Linked DNA regions of Homo sapiens: regions 2, 3 and 4 are each linked to region 1. Evidence: fine-mapped expression QTL. A gene starts in region 1. Each other region holds a variant in brackets. All regions are shown on one strand. Distances are from middle to middle.

Region 1 (5,158 bases):
AATAAATACATTGTATTATACATATATGTATATATTATACATATACATTTATATGTATAATATAGTTGACATATTTATATATTTATATCGGATATATTGTACATTTATAATATATTTATTATATTTTATATTATAGTATATTATCATTTATAATATATTGTTATATGTTATATGATATATATTTATAGCAGACATAGTAAATATCTATTGTGTTAGGTGATTTTTTATACAATATATAAATATATCAGATATATTATACATTTAAACAGTTAAACACCTAAACAGCCCAATTTTATGTGGATCAGTACTACTAACGGCTTAGGGTAAAATGACAGCTACAGCATAACTAGAATGTTAAAGTGGCATGTCTCAGACAACGTGGATGGACATAAAGTATTTGAGAGAATATTGCATAATAGAAAAAAACATTGTAAAGACTAAAATACTAAATAAGACCTTTTTTTCCCGAGCAATAATTTGCCCAGGCTGGTCTCAAACTCTTGGCCTCAAATGATCCTCCTGCCTTGGCCTCCTAAAGCATTGGGATTATAGGCATGAACCACTGCTCCTGGCCAGAATTCTTGATTAAACAATAGGGTCTAAATAAATTTAAACCCCTTTTATTCTTTTTATTCTTACAGGGTAGACTCAAATATTCTATTTCTTTCCAACTTTATATTCTTGTCATAACAACCCAGTATTCTCTGAGGCAAATGGATGCTTATGACCAACTGGCCTGAAATGGGGGAATATAGGGTTAGTGGTGAGTCACATATAAGAAAATGCAAGAGAATAGCAGTGTATCATATTTCAAAATAAAATACAAACTATACATAAAACTGACCCCAACAAGTATCCATTTCATTTCCTGTCGTGTATCTATATGCTTTCCTGGAAAGAATAAACTTCAGTTCACAAAATCAGATGTAGAAGATACATCACTTTTAAAAATTCTACGTAATTTTAATTCCAAGATTCCCATGCCACCAGGCTGGTGGGAAATCCAGTTTAAGTTGTAATTAGGCCTTTTCTCCAGTATTACATATGAATTTGAGTGTAATACCCCAAAACTTGAGAAGGCCATTGTATCTCCAGTCCACTGGGGCAATGAATAGCTTGAGCACCTGATCATTATAATGACCCAGATGTGTATCTTTTTCTTTTACTCTGCGGTGAGTTTTTCTAAGGGAGGAATCCTATTTTGTTTAATTTTGTATTATAGCATGGGATATTGTGCCTGGCAGATAGTAGGCAATCAGTTAGTATTTCAGGAATAAACACTCTTGGTCAGTGATACAGCTAATGATTTGCAACAAGCATATCCTTAAAGTACCTTTTCAGTAACGATTTCCATATGAACAAAGAAAAAAACTAGAACCAAGAGGTAAAATTATAATCCTGTTGTCTTGTTCCCATAGCCATACTCTGATTTCTTTTATGTTCTGTGCCCTGGCTTGATACTTAATTTGACAGCTAATTATAATGTTTATTAAGCTCTGAAATATACTTTCTCCTGGCCTTTTTGTCTGAAGTTGTTTGAGGTGTCACCATGGTTGGAAGTTAAGAGCATGGAAGCTAGACTTCTTGGTCTTGAATTCTAGCTTTGTCACTAACTTAGTAACTTTGGGCAAATTACATGTCTCTGCTTCAATTTCATTTGTTAAGGTAGTACCTATTTCACAAGGCTGATGGTGGCAGCAGTGGGGCGTCCAGAGCTGCCGCTGCCATCACGCCAGCTGCAGCAGGGAGGGGCGGGCAGCGGCGGCGGAGCAGCTGCGGGAGCCGCAGTGGCTGCTGTGGGACATCTGTGCCTCGCGTCCCCTGTGCCTTGAGACCCCAAAGCAGCCGACTGCGCCGCCACCATCCTCGCGTTGCCGGGTGGGGCGACGTGCTCCCCGGCCAGGAGCCTCCACCGCTCCGGACCCTGGCCCTATGTCGCCGCTCTCGCCCGCCGCCGCCGCGGAGTGGGAGTGGGGAGGAGGGGAACAGTCCTTGGAGCCGGCCCCGGGAGTACTCCCGGAGCCTGCCGCCCTGGAAGCCGCCACGATGGACCGGGCTGAGTCGCCCGCCGGAGGGGAAGCAGTGTAGTCGGGCACGGAGGGGCAGGCAGAGAGGGGCCCCAAGGCGGAGCTGGGTCCGGGGCGGAGCGGTGTTCGCACACAAAGCGCTGGGGCTGGACCCAGGGTTCGGGGCCAAGGCGAGAAGTGGGAGCGGGGCCCGCTTTGGGGACCCGGACAGCGGTGTGGCCACCGCGCACACCTCCGACAGCGCCGCATTCCTGGGCCTTGGGAGGAGGCTCTGAGTAGGGCCGCCTGGGGCGCGTCTTCAGGGTCCTCCCGGCACTGGGGTGACCGCCGAGCTAGACGCGCCTGAGGGCTGAGCCCCAGGGCTCGTGATCTGCTCCCGGAGGCGCCCCCCAGGCAGGGCCGTGAGCCGGGCGAGGGAGAGTCCTGGGCTGCCCCTGAGCCCCGGGGCCACGGGAAGAACTTGCAGCGACGTCATCCCTGCCCCGGACACAGTCCCGGGCCCAGGGAGGACCTGGAACATTCCCTTCCTCCCCCCCCCCCCCCCCGCCCCCGCCCATCAGCCCAGCCTGCAAGGAGGCGCCACCGGACCTGCACACTCAGGAGCAGGTGAGCCAGGGACAAGCAGGAGCCCCGCCCCTTCCGAACTGGTGGAGCAGGAGCTCCCAGGGTGCAGCTGCAGCCACCTTGCCGCGGCTGTGGACATTTTCTGTGCTCTCAGAGGCCCAGCAAAGTCCCCTGCCCACTGCAGGCTCCAGGGTGCCTACTCCGGCTGCCTGGCTTCTCTCCACTGTTAGCACCCACTCTGAACTCAGAGCAAGGTCGGGCCGAGCCTGGGTACTGTCACAGCCTGGCCGAGCGTGCACACGCTCAGGACAGTGCTGATACGCCAGCCCCCTGCCGTCTCGGCCCCCTTTGGAACTTGGGCACCAACAAGCGTGGGAGGGAGGCTGAGAGGGGTCTGAAGACAGCTGGACACTGACTTGCAGGCGCTCCTTGGCATGAACAGCCTGGGAGCAGGAGGCAGACAGGTTCCTGGGTGGAAGGGGATGGGTCCCCAGTGAAGTCCCACCCTCAAGCTGGTGAGGGCTTGAAGCCTGCAGACCAGAGAGGTAACTTGTGGTGCTGCTCCCTGGGCCCACTCATGGCTGCCCATGGACCAATCAGCATGCATTTCCTCCCTCTGAGGCTCATAAAATCCCCCAGACTCAGCTAGATTGGAAGAGAGGATGGGAAGACAATGGATGACCTACCTGTGGAGAGAAACTACCCATTCCAGAACCTCCTCTCTGCTGAAAGCTGAACACTCAATGGGAAGACCTGTTTGCAGAGAGGAGCCAGCCACTCCAGGGTCTCCGTTCTGCTAGAAGCTGAACACTCGTTGGGACACCCTTGCTGTGGAAAGGACATCCTTACTGTGGAAATGAGCTACTAACTGCAGGTCTCCTTCCTCTTCATCTTCCTTATCCTTCTGTTCCATTGCTCAGTAATGCTCCTCTTCATCTGTCTCATTCTCCACTTGTCTGCTTGATGCAGGAGCTGAGGAGCTGCACAGCAAGGTTAAAAGAGCTGTAACACAAACAGGGCTGCAACATGCCCCTTGCTCCCCACAGGGAGAGAAGAGCTCTGGCCCTCGGAGAAGCCCAGACCTGGGAGCTCCTTGAGCCCGGGCTGTGACTCCCTCTTTGGGGCCCTGGTTGGCGTCACTGCATTCGCCAGTGCCACTGTTGGAAGCTGCTTGTGATGCGCCTGGTCCAGGGGGAAGCTGTTTGTTGTGTGCCTGGTCCAGCCACCTCATGGAGAGCCTGTGCTGGCACCTGGAGCTGCCCAACCTGGGCAGCAGCTTGTGTGTGTGACTGCACAGTGGCCACGCTTGCTCACACACCCCTAGCACACCCCTCTGCTCCACCCGTCTCAATCTCCCTTGGATCCGGGATCCAGGTTGGTAGCAAGTGCGAGTGGGCAGAAGCAGCCCAGTGGGCCCAGAGCAAAACTCAGGCAAAGGTGCCACTAGACTGGCCAGGAAAGCGACACCCTAAAGATCCCATAATGCTGATATGTTAATTCTATTCTATAAGCACCACACAGAAGTGATAGCTTTTATTTCTTATTTTGTCTAGCCTGGAGACAGAGCTAAGGATTCCTTGAACTGCAAAGTCTTTTCCAGTTCTTAGTTTATACAATCCATACTCACCTTCTGCCTAACTAAGCATTGTCATTTTTGTGCCAAATGAAGAGTAGGACTCCTACGATTGTCCTCAGACTCTCTTGGCTCAATCCTCCTGCTTTAACCTTTCCTACTTCAAAAACTCCTGAAGTTTTGCTTCCCCTTCTATAGAATGGAAATATATGTCGCAATACTTACTGCAAAGAAAATTATATATTTTAAAAATAGACTAAAGAGATGTTGTGAGACATCAGACATCAATCAGATGTTGTGAGAACTGATTTCTGCATCAGAATATCTCCTTGACTTTACAGCTATCCTTTAATCCTGGCTCAAAGTTCCAGAAGAAAGATGATCCAATATAATACTCCTATTTGGACTTTGAGTCATACACATTCCTTCTTCTGAGAAAACGTGCTTCTGCATGAATCCTCCCTTCATTATTTTCAGCTCATCTATTATTGAATCTGAAACCCCAGGTTAACTGACTGATCACTCTCATCAGTGGCAGATTTTGGTGTAACATAGGACACATCACTCCCAATTCAGGTCAAGTCCCAATTATCTTGCCTCTCAATATGACATGTTCAATGTTGTATTTCATTCTACTTCATTTTAATGTAAAAAGTCTTTTCTGGTGAAGTCAGTCTTTTATTTTCTCATAAAAATTCACCCTTTGGGTTTTTCATAGGGTATTCCCATAACCAAACACACTTTACACTTTCCTAGTACATAACCCAATACTTTCTTCTTTCCCCACAGTCCTTACATGAAGCCTACTCAGACCGACATCACTGTATCATTTTTTTGTATTCTGAAGTCCTTCAGCACTTGATTCCTTTAAGTTTAATCTTGGTATTCTATTGGGAATCATATGGAAATGTACAATGATATTTATTGAATGAACAGGAAACAGGGAAAGACATTGACCAGAAAAAGTGTTTATTCATCAAGTCTTTAAAGATAC
Region 2 (5,158 bases), 92 kb after region 1:
TTGTCTTAAGGGTGAGAAAAAGGAGATAATTGTAACTCATCAATAAGTAATTATAACTGGTAGATAAGAGAATGCACATTCATAATACATGGAGCTGAAAATAATACAGGAGAAGCAAGGTCTTCTATGTCATAAACTCCTAAAACTCACTAACTCACACTTCTATGCTGAACTTGATTTAGTCCTGTGGTACGAAGGTAGGGTAGGTTGATGGAGGAAGAAGCATAGAGCATACTCACCAATCTCTCCAATGTTATTTTAGTTGGACTGATGAAAGAGAAAAGTGGTAGAGAGAGTTCTTTTATTGTTCGTGATATTTTCTGAGAATTGCAGTATAGACTAGAATATAAAACTTAACTATTGACCTCATGTGACTTTTGTGATGCTCTCTCTGGCAAATAGAGATAAAAATAGTTTGAAAATGTTATTGCATTTTCTGTTTGTTGTACCTCTTTTCTTTCTTTTTTTTTCTCTCCAACTGAATCAGTCCGTTTTTGTTGTTTTGTAACCTCTTCCAGAGTTAACTACTTCCATTGTAGGTGATGAAATGTATAAGGCACCACTTCAAATGTTGGCACTGCTATAAGCATGTTCTTTCCTGCTAATTCAACTCAGAATTAAAACTTTTGATTCTTGTTTTGTTTTTTGTTGTTGTTATTGTTGTTGTTGTTGTTGTTTTTGTACTCCATACTCAGAAATAGTTTCCACTGTAGAAGTTATCTCATGGCAGTTGTGTTCTTTCTAGTAGTGGTCTACAACCAGACTCTAGTTTCTCCAAGAACACTACAAGATAGATTGAGTTTAAATATGTACTAAACTAAATGACACTCTTTCAAATGAGTTTGAATGCATTTTGTTTTTAGACAACCTCTATGACATTTTTTCCTTAAAAACAATGCCTCTGCTCCAAATAAATCATGGTCAAAATAAATGAAGATCTCAAGATGACATCAGTTCTACTTGTCTAAGTCCTGGTGTTGTATGGATGACAAGCAGAAGCCAGTTATGACAGGTGATACATCCAAAGTAACTGCCAAATTTGTTAACATTTTTCCATTTCTAAACCATGGAAAATCATCTATGGAGTCACACCATCCTCATGGTAGTCCAGCAGAGGCAGCATGCCATATGGGTTCATGTTTTCACCAATAAAGAACTGGTAGTTTTTATTGCTTCTTGACCTTTTGGCTAAGATCAAATGAAGAACTGGTAGTTTCTGAGATTAGAAAGAGTGTGCTTGATTTGTTCTGCAGCTCCTGTTATAAAAGGTTTTACTGTTTCTGGTCTCTGTTCTTTAAGTTTGTCTTTGATTTTATGTCAGCTTTGATGTACTTCTTGTAGGCTTCTTTTGTGAAGTCAGTTCCTGCAAGTGATTGTTCATGACAATATCAACACCAATGATTACTCTGCTTCCAGTACCTTCGCTTTGGGAAACTTCAGTGAAGGCATCTCCACCAATAAGCGAGTCATCAATGTCACCCTTTGTCCTACTGACCATCTTCCCCTCCACCTCCAGGCACAGTCCTTCCTCCATCTCTGGATCTTGTAAATGTCAGAGAACATCTCAGCGTGGCTGATGAGATCCTGGTAGATAATTATGATGGTAGCTGAAAGGAGACTATAGCAGCACTAGCTTAGGAGAAGCCCAGAGCATGAAGTGAGCATGGTGCAGCCAGGACGGCATTGGGTGGGAATTTAGGGGGTATGGAAGAGCTGTTGTACCTCTTTTCATTCAAGTAAGTAGAGAGAAATCATGAGAAAATGAATCTATTTGTCTATTATATTGGTTTTAGCAAGTAGAAATAAAACTGCATTATTTATCTGCAGCATTATGTCTATTATGTTCTGCTCTGTGTAACATATGCAATCCCAGAGAAGACAGTTTTATAAGAGGTGCTCTGATCTCACAATGTATGACTTGGCTAAGGAATTACAGATGAAGCTTGTGGATTTCAGAAGGAATATATTTCTTCTTTTTGTAGAATCAGTGTAAATGGAAATGGAAATTTGGTACCATTTGCTGTTTGCTCTCACCTTTTTTTGCACAGTTTTTAAAAAAACTTTTATTATTTATCTATTTATTTATTTATTTTTTAAATGTTATTTTATTTTAAGTTCTGGGGTACATGTGCAGGATGTGCAGGTTTGTTACATAGGTGTGCCATGGTGGTTTGCTGCATGTATCAGCCCATCACCTGGTTATTAGGTCCCCCATGCATTAGCTATCTATCCTGATGCTCTCCCTCTCCGCACCTCCCAGACAGGCCCCAATGTGTGCTGTTCCCCTCCCTGTGTCTATGTGTTCTCATTGTTCAGCTCCCACTTATAAGTGCTCTCACCTTCTTTCACAGCTTCCTTATCAAGTGAGTTCAGTATTTCTCTATTCTGATTTTGCTTTCCCAGTAGGGAAAAAGCATAGGCCAGCAATGCCTTGGTGTAGACATGGCTCCCATGGGTCCCCTCCTTTGCTACATTCCAGGCTGACTCCAGGCAGAACAGGGCATTGCGAACAATAGGGTTCTGTAAAGGCAAAATGTGGTTGTGTCAAACTAGGGTGAATAGAGGGCAGAGCAAGCTGAGAGCTGGATATTGACAGTCAGATGTTATTAATAGATTTCAGACAGATAGGCAGACAGCTAGATATTCATCATATTTAAATAGAAAAATATTTCGATCTCTTCCCTTTATAGTTCAGTCTTAAAGAATAAGACTAGAGAACCTGTTTTTAGGATTGGTTTTGATACATAGTCTATGGGCATTACTGGGCAAGTGTAAATCTCTCTTAATGCATCAACCAAAGAGCTTATCAGTCTGAGAAATCCCTCATCATTGAACCAAAAGATACTTGAGACTCAACCCTTAGCAGGGTGGCATTCCAGACAGCAAATCTACAGTTTTCATGGTAGGGAATGGGATTGAGCTGGTACCTACAGTGACTGGGAGAGGAATTTCCAGAAGGGCAATAGTAACATAGGCGGAGAGGGTCGCTTCATCTTCTACACCTCCCTGTGAATACAACATTGATTTGATTAATTCCAGTGCCAAGTGTTAGTATATTCTCTTCTGTTGTTTGATGGAAACGCTCCTCAGTATCTGTTTCCATTCAAAGTATACCATTTCCTTCTCTCTCTCTCTCTCGACAGG[T/G]TCTTGCTCTGTAGCTCAGGCTGGAGTGCAGTAGCACTATCACACATGACAGCCTCAAGCTCCTAGGCTCAAGCAATTTTGCTGCCTCAGCTTGTCAAGTAGCTGCAACTACAGGCACAGGCCACCATGCCTGGCTAATTTTGTAAAATGTTTTTTGTAGAGACTGGGTCTTGCTATGTTGCCCAGGCTAGTCTTATACTCCTGGGCTCAAGTGATCCACCTGCCTTGGCCTCCCAAAGTGCTGTGATTCTACGTGTGATCCACTGCATCTGGCCCAATTTCTTCCTTCTCTGTAGAAAGTGTAATACTCTTTCCCTGATGCCATCCCACATCATCCAGGACTTCATCTTTGCAATTTCCTTGTGCCTCCTTCCTCCCTTCACCCCTGGGGGATGTTATGTTGATGTGTGTCAGGCTCAGAAGTTTGTGGAACAGTTCACCTTTATGGCATTGTTGAGCAGTGACCCAGAGCTCCTGAAACAGCCATTGTCCTTCTGCATCTGGGAGAGCCACGTGAGAGATTGGGTAATGTGTGCTTCATCAATGAAGATGTAGGATCGAGCCTGGGCGAAAGTCTTCAGTACAAAAGCTGTGAGCCTAGGGGGAGGAAAAATGCAGTGCTGAGGCTCTTTTCATTGAGCACTTTACTGCTCTGTTTTGTACACACAGGCTCCCCCATCACAGTGTGCACCCAAGAAAGTCAATCAGCTGTTACTGAGAGTTTGGAGACTTTTTCTTTTTAGCTTAGACATCTCTTTTTCTTTTTTCTTTTCTTTTCTTTTTTTTTTTTTTTTTGCTGCCACATGTTGTTCAATTCATTACCAGCTTGTCCTTGCTTCCTAAAGCATTTCTATGCCACTTCAGAGGTTCAGGTTCCTTCCAGTTTTCTTGGTTGGTTAACTAAGTCATTTGCTTTTACACTGTGGGCTCTATGAATTTATTTCCTTTCCTAGATTTCTTAGCTTACTTTCTGTAGTTTTAACTCTAATCAGCTAACTTCTAATGTTCTGCTTCAGTAAATATTTCCCTCCATCATCCTGCCCTTCCACTTTTTTCCCCTGTGTTTGCCTGTGTGGTAAAACTACAAAGAGAGAGAGAGAAAGGATATCATCTAGTAGAAGGTAGTAAGGTATGCTCTGCCAGTAATGGTTGTGGTTTTATTCTAGCATTTTTCTAACACCTCTTAGGGCTGAGCAACAATTTAAGGGGGCAAGTTACAAACCTATAATGTTCCCTTAGCAACATGAGAAGGAAGAGGGTCTGGGTATATTGGATTAAAAAAATCAACCTAAAAGTGTTCTCAATTTTGCCACTTATTAGATGTTTGCTCCTGACACATTTATTTATCCACACTGAATATGTTTTCTCCTCTGTAAAATGAAGCTAATAACTCTCACTTCCCAGGGTAGCTATAAGAATTAAATAAGGTAACATTATGGTTTAGAAATTGTTTCTCCACCAAAACTCATGTTAAAACTTAATCCCCAATGTGGTAGTATTGAGAGGTGGAGCCTTTAAGAGGTGATTGGCTCATGAGGGTTCTGCTCTCATGAATGGATGAATCTATTCCTAGATTAAAGGGCTATCATGACAGTTGGACTGGTGGCTTCATAAGAAGAGGAGGAGATGCTAGCCCAGTCTCTACAAAGTAAAACAAAGAAAAGAAAAGAAGAGAAGGAGAGACCCAAGTGAGCCCATTCAATCCTCTAGTCATATGATGCCCTGCATCACCGTGGGACTCCTCAGAGTCCACACCAGCAAGAAGACTCTCAACTAGATGCGGCCCCTAGACTTTTGACTTATCAGCCTTCATAGCTATAAGAAATAAATTTCTTTTCTTTATAAATTACCTAGTTTCAGGTATTCTGTTATAAGCAACAGAAAATGGACTAAGACAGGTAATCTATGTGCACGTTCTGAACTCATAGTTGAAACTCAGAATAGATTTTCTTTCTTACCAAGTGTTGCCCTGGTTCCTGCCATATCGTTCCCCAAAGGTGCTGTAGGAGCCATC
Region 3 (5,132 bases), 33 kb after region 1:
TTTTTTTTTTTTTTTTTTTTTTTTTTGAGACGGAGTCTCGCTCTGTCGCCCAGGCCGGACCGCGGACTGCAGTGGCGCAATCTCGGCTCACTGCAAGCTCCGCTTCCCGGGTTCACGCCATTCTCCTGCCTCAGCCTCCCGAGTAGCTGGGACTACAGGCGCCCGCCACCGCGCCCGGCTAATTTTTTGTATTTTTAGTAGAGACGGGGTTTCACCTTGTTAGCCAGGATGGTCTCGATCTCCTGACCTCATGATCCACCCGCCTCGGCCTCCCAAAGTGCTGGGATTACAGGCGTGAGCCACCGCGCCCGGCCTTTGTGACATTTTTTAAGTTCAAGGAGAAAAGAACAGGAATAATGAACATCCGTCTTTCTTTGAGCGCTCTCATTGCTTTGATGATTTATAGAGGGTATGGATCATTTTCTTGACACAGTGTTTTCATTTTGAAGATGTTTAACAATTTTAGGAAAAACCAAACACTCCATCTAAGTACTCATCTAAGTACTAAGTACTACTTCGTTACACAGTTCAGAGGCCACCACTAGACTCAACACTGGAATGAAATAAAACTTTATTAATTGAAAAATCGAGGTCTGCTGTATTTGTGACATTGCACAAAGCTTTGAGATGATAGAAGGAAATGATAGTTTTGTGCTTATCTTGTGGTGAGCAACTGACTCAGTATATAGCAAAGTTAATGGGTGCATGTTCTAAACAGGCACACGAATAGGAATATCCTCTCTCCACAGGACACGATGGCATTTTCTTAGGTATTATTAGTGGAAACAAAATGCTCCAGATCTTCATATAATACATACAACTTTAACCGTAAAATTCTAGGCATGATGCTTTCAAGTCCATTTGAAGGTGAGAAGTAAGACAGACATAAAAATTGTGATAGTTACATTGCATTATATTCGTAGGAGTTTAAAACTGATTGACAAGAACAGATGAGCAAAGTGAGTGGTGTGATGAAATTAGACACTTTCTCAAAGTATCTTAACATTTCTCATTTCCTCTCCCTGCTTTTATTGTGGCATATTGCATAATTATTGTCTGTCTCATCTATGGGACAGACAATGTAAGTTCCATGAGACATACATTTTTATCTTTCCAGTAGCTCACTGCTTGATCTCTACTAGCACTTAGTATAATACCTAGAACACAGTGGGCATTAAATAAATGTGTTGAATGAATGACCTACACTAGTAGCAGCAAAGTGTTTCATTGGTAAGACACTAATCAAAGCTTGAGAAGAGTTGGTGTTTTAACTCAGGTCTACTACTAAATCCCTGAAAGCTTCTGCTTTATTATTAATAAATAGGACTGTCTGCCTTATCTACCCATCAGGGTTGTTATAATTTGAAAAATTCTTTGAGAATTATAAAATTATATTATAAAAGTATAAAACATGTATATTATTTTCCCACATATCCTCTTGAGATCCTACTGTTGAAATGTACTTGATGCTTCCTTTAGAAGTATTCTAATATTTTCAGTTAAAATCCCATTAGAAGGACAAACAAGTAAGAAACATTTTTTTATAAGTTTCTATTTCAGGAAAATAAAAATATAAATTTCTCTTTGTTAAATTATGGTAGTAGAAAAAGCTTCAGTAAGAGGTTATTACAATTGGTCTCATATTAAAAATTTGAAGATGTGAGCAAACTACTATTAGTACATGCTATTAACTAGTTTTTGTTGTTCCAATTCAGCATATCCTTTTGGTATTTCTTCTATTAGCTCCATATTTTCAAAGAGTTCAGTTATCAATGTCAATTATATAGTAGTTCAATTTCCCTAAGTTTTGTTCCTCAGAGATAATACATATGTTCCCTCAGAAATTATGTGTAGCTTGGGACAGCAATTATTTCAACTGATGTAATTCTTTTTTTTTTTTTTTTTTTGACACCAAGTCTTGCTCTATTGCCCAGGCTGGAGTGCAGTGGCACGATCTCGGCTCACTCAACCTCTGCCTCCTGGGTTCAAGTGATTCTCCTGCCTCAGCCTCCTGAGTAGCTGGGATGACAGGCGCCCGCCACCACGTCTGACTAATTTTTGTATTTTTAGTAGATACGGGGTTTCATTATATTGGCCAGACTGGTCTCAAACTCCTGATCTCAAGTTATCTGCCTGCCTTGGCCTCCCAGTGTTGGGATTACAGGCGTGAGCCACCAGGCCCAGCCATAATTCTTATAAAAACGGAAATCTGATATTTCATTTAGCCTGTATAGCCTCAGTGCAGGTATATGTATCACTTTTGTTAGGCTTTTTGAAATGTTGAAACTAGTTTGACAACTCCTATTACTGGTTGCATGGAGCTCTGGGATTTTAAGGACTTTGGGTACTGTATGGTCTTTTTACATTTTAAATATATAATTTTCGAACGGCTTCCCCGGTTGCTCAGTTAATCCTTTCTTTTATTTTGCATAACTGCACTTCTCATATAGCACTTTTCACAATCTGCTCTGTATTCTCTCCAGCCTTGCATATACGGATGTCCTGACACAATCAGAAGATTTGAATTTGTATTGCTATGTGCTCTTGAGCAAGAAGCTTAACGTGTCTGAATAACGAGTCCTTTTTTGGTTGTTAATTTTCATCACATTTTGTCCTTTTAAAAATTCTTTTATTTGATTCAATATATTGTATTTTGTTTATTTTTTTAACTGCAGAAGTGAGTAGTTATATATATATATATATA[T/A]AATTCCTTACCAATGAAAGCCCACAAGAGAGCTCAAAGCAATTAATTCCTAGATAAATATAATTTTAATTGATCTTATCCTACTTATCCAGTCATTTTTCCTTGCTCTGAGCCCCTGGCACGGCCCTTCTTGATTCCTGAGGCTGCCAGGAACTCACCGAGGACGCCGAGAGCTCAGCATCAGGCTTCATGAGCAGCACGCTTTGGTCCACAGCACGGAGGGCGCAGACGGACTGAGGAGCCGCTGTGACTCGCAGGTGGGCGTGTGAGGCTGGGAGACTTTGTGATGGGCTGAAGCTCAAATCCACCTGTGAAATTGGAACAAAAGGTCAGAAAAGCAAATTTCCAGGTTTACCCATGCATTCACTCGCATTTGCAGAGTGTTCCTCATGTACAATGTATAACCACTCTGCTTGACTTCGTGGAGGGTTGGCATTGTGTCAATCCTGAAGCTTTTTGTTCCCTACACTTCTCTTTCATTCTCAAGAATCACTTGAGCCAGTAGAATTATTTCTAATTATTCTTATAAATTACTAGTCATGAAATGCCATTTTTATCTTTGATACACGGCAAGGTGCTCATTAATTGTGGTGGGACATGCATGGGTCTAGGTGCTCTTGCATTTTTCTTTTGGCTCCTTAGTAGTCTTAAAAACTTGCTTACATATTTCCCAACGTTTCATCATAGAAGAAGGGAATAACATACTCTGAACTGTGTAATTGGTAAGAGGCACTGCTAGGAGAAGTTTGAGAGTTTTGTATAAGGAATCAAGTGATTCTGCTTCTTAGTGTGACTCTGCCACTACCTTGCTGAATGTCTCTGGGGAATTTGTTTAACCCTTTTGGCCCTAATGTTCACATGTGTAAAACAAATGATAACAATAGTAACTTCTAGTTTTACATGTTGAAGATTTTATGATCTAAAACACACACCTTGTTGGCCAGACAATTTTCAACATCATATTTTGCAGAATCCCCAATCACGTCCCCGGTAGGTAAAACAGCATAGATGAGCAACCGAGCGACAGGAGCAATGTCTGACTTCACAGGGATTGAGATGGAAAAATGGCCCTTCACTGGGGCACAAAGAGAATGAGAGGAAGCCATCATAGGTTAATGACTATTTCCATTAGTAGATGTAACAGACATAATAAACAGTAGATGTAACAAATGGATGATTACCTCTAAGGACTCTAGCTTTAGAAAAAAACCCTATCAAAGCCCTCTCTCCTCTCATAAATCATATACTCTGTTGATTTTTCACCAGCTTTAAGCTTCAGCTCACCCACCTAATGTTCTGATGCTAGTTAAGGGTATGAAGACATCCAATTCACTACCATTTGATCTAGGCCTCATACTAGAAGAGGGAAATAGAACCTGAAGTTATGAGATGTAAGAGTAAGAGTTCAACACATTGTATTCATGCTACATGCTCTTTAACCTTCTATGAGCCAATATTTGGTTCTTTCTCCATAAGAGGAACACCATGCTCCTTCAGAAGTTATTTTTTGATGCCTATGTAGATTCTTTAGAGGTTGCATTAAGTTTCCTTCAGTCTGCTATGGTGCTTCTGTGTTGCTACAAGAACTAATGAGAGAGTAGATTACTGATACTTTTCTAGCAAGTTATCTTTTAGAGTCTACTAGACTAGGAGCAACCTTCAAAGGTTTATATTATGACATATTTGCTCATGGCAAGAGTCCGCTTCAGTCGGTAGAAGTACCCAATTTAATGCTTCATAAATCATAACTATCTTGAAAGGGAAAAAAGATATTTATAATAATATAAATGACATAAATGACTCAGCACAAGACCTGGTATATACAACATACCTTGAAATCGTACATTTTCTCCACCCCATTCTCTAACACAATTCTCATTTTGAGAAGAGGTTCAAGAATATTTATGGTTTAAAAATCTGGAATAAGCATAGATTATACACAACAATATTTTATGTATTTTATTTTTCCCCCTTTGTTCTTATTTATTTATTTATTTATTTATTTACTTTTATAGAGATGGGGTCTCACTATGTTGACCAGGCTGGTCTCAAACTCCTGACCTCAAGAGATCCTCCCATCCCGTTCTCCCAAAGTACTGGGATTACAGGCGTAAGCCATCATAGCTGGCCCACACCAATATTTTAAATAACGCAAAGAAAATAGGCTGAAAAAAAAGACAACACATATTTGATAAAGGGTGAGAAAAAAACCATTATTGTTTTCCCTCCCTCAACTTTCTTTTAATTAATATTAGATGGAAATGGTCTCTCGTTACTTGAAAGTATTCCTGATATTCCCAGCTCAGGAATGGAAAACCAAACATCATATCTTCTCACTCAGAAGTAGGAGCTAAGCTATTAGGAAGTGGCAGCTAAGCTATTAGGAAGTGGGAGCTAAGTTATGAGGATGCAAAGGCATAAGAATGAT
Region 4 (5,158 bases), 170 kb after region 1:
ATGAGGTAGCTAGTGGCTTTGGCCTTGATCTTCTCTGTCAGCTGTCGTGTCTCATTTAGATAGTTTAGAACATAAATGTTAGGGACAAAAAGGACCATATTCTGCTCTCCACAACCATAGGGCATCTGAAGAAGGTTCTGAAGGTTTTGCACTACAGAGCCTAGTATATCACCTGTGGAATAAAAGTTGTAAAGAAATCAGATATGGTTTGTATTAGGCTAGGAAAATAGATTATTAGCTAACTGAGAGGCCAAATAACCTATAGAGAAAAGGACAAGAAGACTAAAAAAGGTGAAAAAACAAGAAATAGGGAGGAAAACAAAAGGTGAGAAAATAGACGGTTTAAGGATGGAGAAAGGGGGGAAGAAACTGAATGGTAGGTGATCTATCTTTTCTCATGGGCCACATGTCTGGTAAAACTCAACCACAACCATTTTCAAACTGACTAGGAAGCATTACCACCTAGTAAATTGCTTGAAGATGAGGGCACTGAGAGGTGACCCTTTCTTTTTAGAATATATCAAGGCATAATATGTAGCACAACATCTATTCAAGCCCCTTTCCAACTGTAACATAGTGTAACCCTTAGTGCTTTCTCTCAATCCATTGCCTGTTGTCAGAAACTTCATTAATCGTGGATGGTGAGGCCCATGCACTAGAATTATACAGCCAGACAGCTGCTTCCCTTGGGCTGAAAGAATCACCTAAAACTGAATATGTTGCCCTTGGAGATCCTTCAACCACATTTGAAGGAACATTCAGTGACACCTTTTCAGGTACTCCAGTATCTAATGAAAGAAGAAAAACACACATATAAAGGAGGGGAAAGTGAGAGAAATGTTCTATTTTTGTTATGAATCATGTTTCTCTACATCATCTAGATCCAACCTTTTATTTTCCTTCGTCATTATATAACTTTTTTTTTTTTTTTTTTTTTGTGATAGAGTCTCCCTCTGTCACCCAGGCTGAAGAACAGTGGCGTGATCTCACTGCAACCTCTGCTTCCCAGGTTCAAATGATTCTTGTGCCTCAGCCACCTAAGTATCTGGGATTACAGGCATGCACCACCACACCTGGCTAATTTCTGTATTTTTTATAGAGACAGAGTTGGCCAGGCTGGTCTTGAACTTCTGATCTCAAGCGATTTGCCTGCCTCCATCTCCCCAACTGCTGAGATTACAGGTGTGAGTCACCATGCCTGGCTCAGTTATTACATAATTTCTTTGATACAATCCAAGTTTCCCTTAAAGCCATGATTCATCTCTCAGTGAAATTCATATTCATCATATACATTTGTGCTAAATTTCTATGGCTTTTCCTATGGGCATATACTTATGGTATGCTTATTTCCTTCTCTTCATGGTTTATATTAATTCCTGCTACTGTTAGTGCTTTTCAAGAATTACATTCATTCCATTCATTTGTATTCAGTGTATACTATGTACCAGGTTCTAAGTGCAATGATACCGAAAGTTTCAAAACAAATTTCCTGGCCTCCTGGAGATTTCATTTTTAGGGGAAGACTACGATAAAAAAGCAAGAGTATATTTAGTATACTAGATGTTGATAAGTGCTATAGAGAAAATTAAAGCAGGGCAAGTGTTTCTATGGTGAGCTAGTAAAACAAGGCAGGTCAGGAAGTGGGGAGGGGGCTCCCTATGGAAAAGCTCATTGATAAAAAGTCCTGTGTGAGCAGAGACTTTAAGTAAGTCAAGGAGCCAGATTTATCCAAACCTGGGGGAAGATACTTCCAGGAAAAAGGAACAAAAAGTAAAAGGACTCCAGAGACTGAAGCATGCTGGGTGTATTCCAATAGGAAGAAAGAGGTCAGTGTGGCCGGAACGGGTTAAGCGAAGGAGAGATTAGGAAGACGTGAAGTCATGGGGTAGCAAGGGTTTCTAAGTGGCATTAAAAACTTACGCTTTAACTTAGGGGGGATATGGGAGATTCCTGAAAGGGTTAGAGAAGAGGAGGGACACGATCTGACACATGTTTTAAAGGATCCCTCTCGCTGAAGGGGAACAAGAAGAGATGATCAGGAGACCAGTTAGAAAGCTATTGAGAGCCTGCAAGAGAAAGGACTAGAATAGTAGAGATGGAGAGAAGTGGGTAGATTCTGGATGCAATTTGAAGGTGGAATCGACTAGATTTGTGCATGGATTGGGTAGGGAAGATAGGGGAAAGAATGTAGTAAAGAACTCCAAAGTGTTTCTCCCTAGCAAATAGAAGAATGGATTTTTCATCATCTGAGATGAAGGAAATTGAGGGAGGAGCAGGTTTGTGAGGACGAGCAGATACTCAGTCTTAAACTTGCTGATTTTGATATGCCTATGAGACCTACAAGCCTGTAAGTGGAGAGTGGGCAGTTGAATACATGAGTTTGAGTTCAGGAAAAAGGTGTGGATCAAAGTTGTACAGTTTTGGACACAAGTACATAGTTGTTATTAAAGCCATTGACTAGATGATTTTATCAAGGGATCCTCGTATAGAGAAGAGAGATCTGCAGACTGAGCATTATCGTCAAGATGATTATAGGTGGCACAGA[G/T]TTGGGTTTTTAATGATAATTTAAATAAACTTAAAAAAGTGTTAGCTTTTCCCCTTCTCTTTCAATATAGTGGTAATTTTTGTATTGCTATATTAATGATATTGGTAAAATACTGGTTTTCTATACAAGTTAGTAACCTGGAGTTCCTCTTAAAATAACTTGTTTAAGTAAAAACATGAGTGCATTTAAACTGTCAATTGAACAGTAAATCATACTAGTGTCACACAGATATTTCAATATTTTGAACATGGTTTAGGAAGACATTTGAGAAACACAGAGGTATCAGAAAGAATCCTGTCCTGAGGTCAACAGCCTTAGACCTTATTATTAGGCAAGAGCTTTTAAGCTTTTAAGCAAGTCTTTTATTTCTCTATGCCCATTTCTTTATTCTTAAAATACAATAATAATAATTTATCCTAAAAAGTACTTTCTATTTATTTCCCTAAGAGGCTCATTCCAAGTGATTTTCATCAGAACAATGTTTTTCTTTTTTTTTTCTTTTTTTTTTTGCTAGAACAACTCAGCAAAATAAAATTCCTGTTTATTGTTGGACAACATTGTTTCACACATACATCAAACAGGCCAAAAAATAAAAATAAACAGCAACTTCATAGACAAAAAAGGAAAAAAAAGAAACCTTTTATCTTTGGCCTTTTTAACCATCTCATACAAACCAACTACTTATAGTACAGCTAAGTACATACACAAAAAAGTTACTGGAATGCTCGGAATAAGATGGTTTTTCTGTTGTCATTTTTGCATTTTTTACAAGTTTTTTTTTTCTCCTTTGAGATTATAATGAACATGGCCACACCACAAGTAAAGTGAGAAGTAGGACAGAGAACGCTCCGAAGGCTGGTTTGGTCATCCGAGATCATTAAAAATGGCCGACCCTAACAATATGTACAAAAATATAAAATGTAAATAAAAAATACAAGTTTCCTTTTTAAACTACTTTTAAGAAAAAAAAAAAGCAGGGCCTTGGAAGTTTTGGTTCTTTTTCCCTCCCCTGTTGCAAATTCTCATGGTTTGGGTTGGGTGGTGGAGAGCGCGTGTCATCTGCGGGTGGCACTGCCCACGGTGGGCGGGCGGGCCCCTCTACTCGAAGGTGACCACGTTTAGATTCTGAGACGGGAAGTGGAGGGTGAATAGGTCACGGCGGCCTTTTTTTTTTAGTTTAACTTTTCCTTTTTTGCCGTCTGGTCATCCTCGTCGGTCTTCTGCTTCTGGGTATCGACATCGTTATCCTCATCATCTTCAGCTGCCCGCTTGCCCGTAGCTGACTCAGCTCCCTCATCTTCATCTCCATCCTCTTCCTCACCATCACCTTCTTCCTCCCCACCTTCTTCCTCTTCTTCATCTACCTCGTTGTCAGCCTCCGGCTCCCCATTTTCCTCATTAGCATTCCCGTGAGCAGGGGCGTCTCTTCCATTTTCCGCCTCTTCCACAACTTCCTTCTTCTCCTTTAAGTCCTCGGTGGTGATTTCGGAGCTGGTGTCTACGGCTGCGTCTGACATGGTGGGGCACGCCGGTGACGCGATGCAGGGGATAAAAAAGAAAGCGACAGTTCAGGGACTCTGGCGATAAAGCTGCCGGAGTCCGCGGCGGCGGAGGCGGCTGCGGCGAGCAAGGAGGCTGACGACGCACAATGCAAAGACGGCTTTTCAGAGCAGCCAGTGGGGCAGGACAATGTTTTTCATCAAATGTCCTTAGATTTGGAGGAGGGTAAGAGTTGTTTTTTTTTTCTCTCTCTCTCTCAGAGAAAAGCATGCCCCCAAAAGACATTCCACAACTGCATACTCTGGCAAGTCACTTAACATGAAATTTTTCTCTATATATTACACTTACCTGATGCACAGGGCAGCGTGTTGAAAGTTTCCTCCTTTGCTATTCCTTCAGGCTTTATATTGACAAAAAAAAAAAAAAAAAGTAAAGCGATACTGAATGTATAAAAGAAAAATTAAACACTTGAAAGCAAAGGAGAAAATGGTGGTGAAAAATTGGATTGTAGATCTATCCACATTCTTGGGAATTAAATGTCACTGTGAGATGCATGTTAGATAATACTGTATGAAATAATAAGGGCTCTGAGACTCACAGAGAGTAGACTTACGTACCTCAACTAGTAAGGCCTTGACTACAGTGTCCTTCTGCGCAAGTGGTGGGACGTCAGTCAACTCATTGTCACACACTTCCTGAGAATGCATGGCTTCCGCAGTGGCTGTGAAATTCACCTTTCCTGGGGAATAAAGTTCTTAAGAGTTAAACGGTGATTCTATATTGAACAGTTTCTTCTTTTCCAGTTTCCCCAGTGTATCCAGTGGTTGTCTTCCTCTTGATTAATATTAAAGGAGGAGAAAAAGTGTGTATTGGGGTCAGTGCAGAAAACAAATCATCCAAGCACACGAAGTGGAATTTGCTAATAGCATTACTACTCACCCAGTGACTTCGGAGTCACAACCCAGGACACGGTTTTCCGCCCATTTCTACAGACACAGTGAGATTCTTCATTCTTCTCTGTTGGAACAGCCAGGAAAGCGGAAGAGACCTCCAGCTGCACAACGACCTGTCCCCCACACCCAACCACAAGTTTATGAAGGGATGCAGAACAGC

What was found. PIP is the estimated chance that this variant, and not a neighbour inherited with it, causes the effect.
Region 2: its variant is fine-mapped to the expression of A2M-AS1 in lung (TOPMed, PIP above 0.99).
Region 3: its variant is fine-mapped to the expression of A2M-AS1 in prefrontal cortex (ROSMAP, PIP 0.95).
Region 4: its variant is fine-mapped to the expression of A2M-AS1 in whole blood (TOPMed, PIP 0.99).

The regions. Positions count from the first base shown.
Region 1 is chr12:9,062,596-9,067,753 of GRCh38, forward strand. A2M-AS1 (A2M antisense RNA 1) reads left to right here and starts at 2,582. Exons shown (of 2, transcript NR_137425.1): 1 at 2,582-2,633; 2 at 3,231-5,158. LINC00612 (long intergenic non-protein coding RNA 612) reads right to left here and starts at 2,475. Exons shown (of 3, transcript NR_034140.1): 1 at 1,673-2,475. It overlaps A2M (alpha-2-macroglobulin), which reads right to left. Exons shown (of 36, transcript NM_000014.6): 36 at 5,113-5,158. It also overlaps a transcript of KLRG1 not described here. RefSeq lists silencers at 1,811-1,860, 1,921-1,970.
Region 2 is chr12:9,154,836-9,159,993 of GRCh38, forward strand. PZP (PZP alpha-2-macroglobulin like) reads right to left here. Exons shown (of 36, transcript NM_002864.3): 25 at 5,103-5,158; 26 at 3,585-3,741; 27 at 2,932-3,006; 28 at 2,340-2,520; 29 at 1-4. It also overlaps a transcript of KLRG1 not described here and the pseudogene TPT1P12. Among named protein-coding and RNA genes, the nearest start is that of A2M, 41 kb to the left of the region's middle. The variant T/G (reference allele first, on the strand shown) is at 3,145.
Region 3 is chr12:9,095,745-9,100,876 of GRCh38, forward strand. A2M (alpha-2-macroglobulin) reads right to left here. Exons shown (of 36, transcript NM_000014.6): 14 at 3,637-3,779; 15 at 2,863-3,012. It also overlaps a transcript of KLRG1 not described here. Among named protein-coding and RNA genes, the nearest start is that of A2M, 18 kb to the right of the region's middle. The variant T/A (reference allele first, on the strand shown) is at 2,705.
Region 4 is chr12:9,236,270-9,241,427 of GRCh38, forward strand. MIR1244-3 (microRNA 1244-3) reads right to left here and starts at 3,282; the gene lies at 3,198-3,282. LINC00987 (long intergenic non-protein coding RNA 987) reads left to right here and starts at 3,804. Exons shown (of 7, transcript NR_137434.2): 1 at 3,804-4,270; 2 at 4,849-5,158. It also overlaps the pseudogene A2MP1 and the pseudogene PTMAP4. RefSeq lists an enhancer at 4,138-5,158. The variant G/T (reference allele first, on the strand shown) is at 2,546.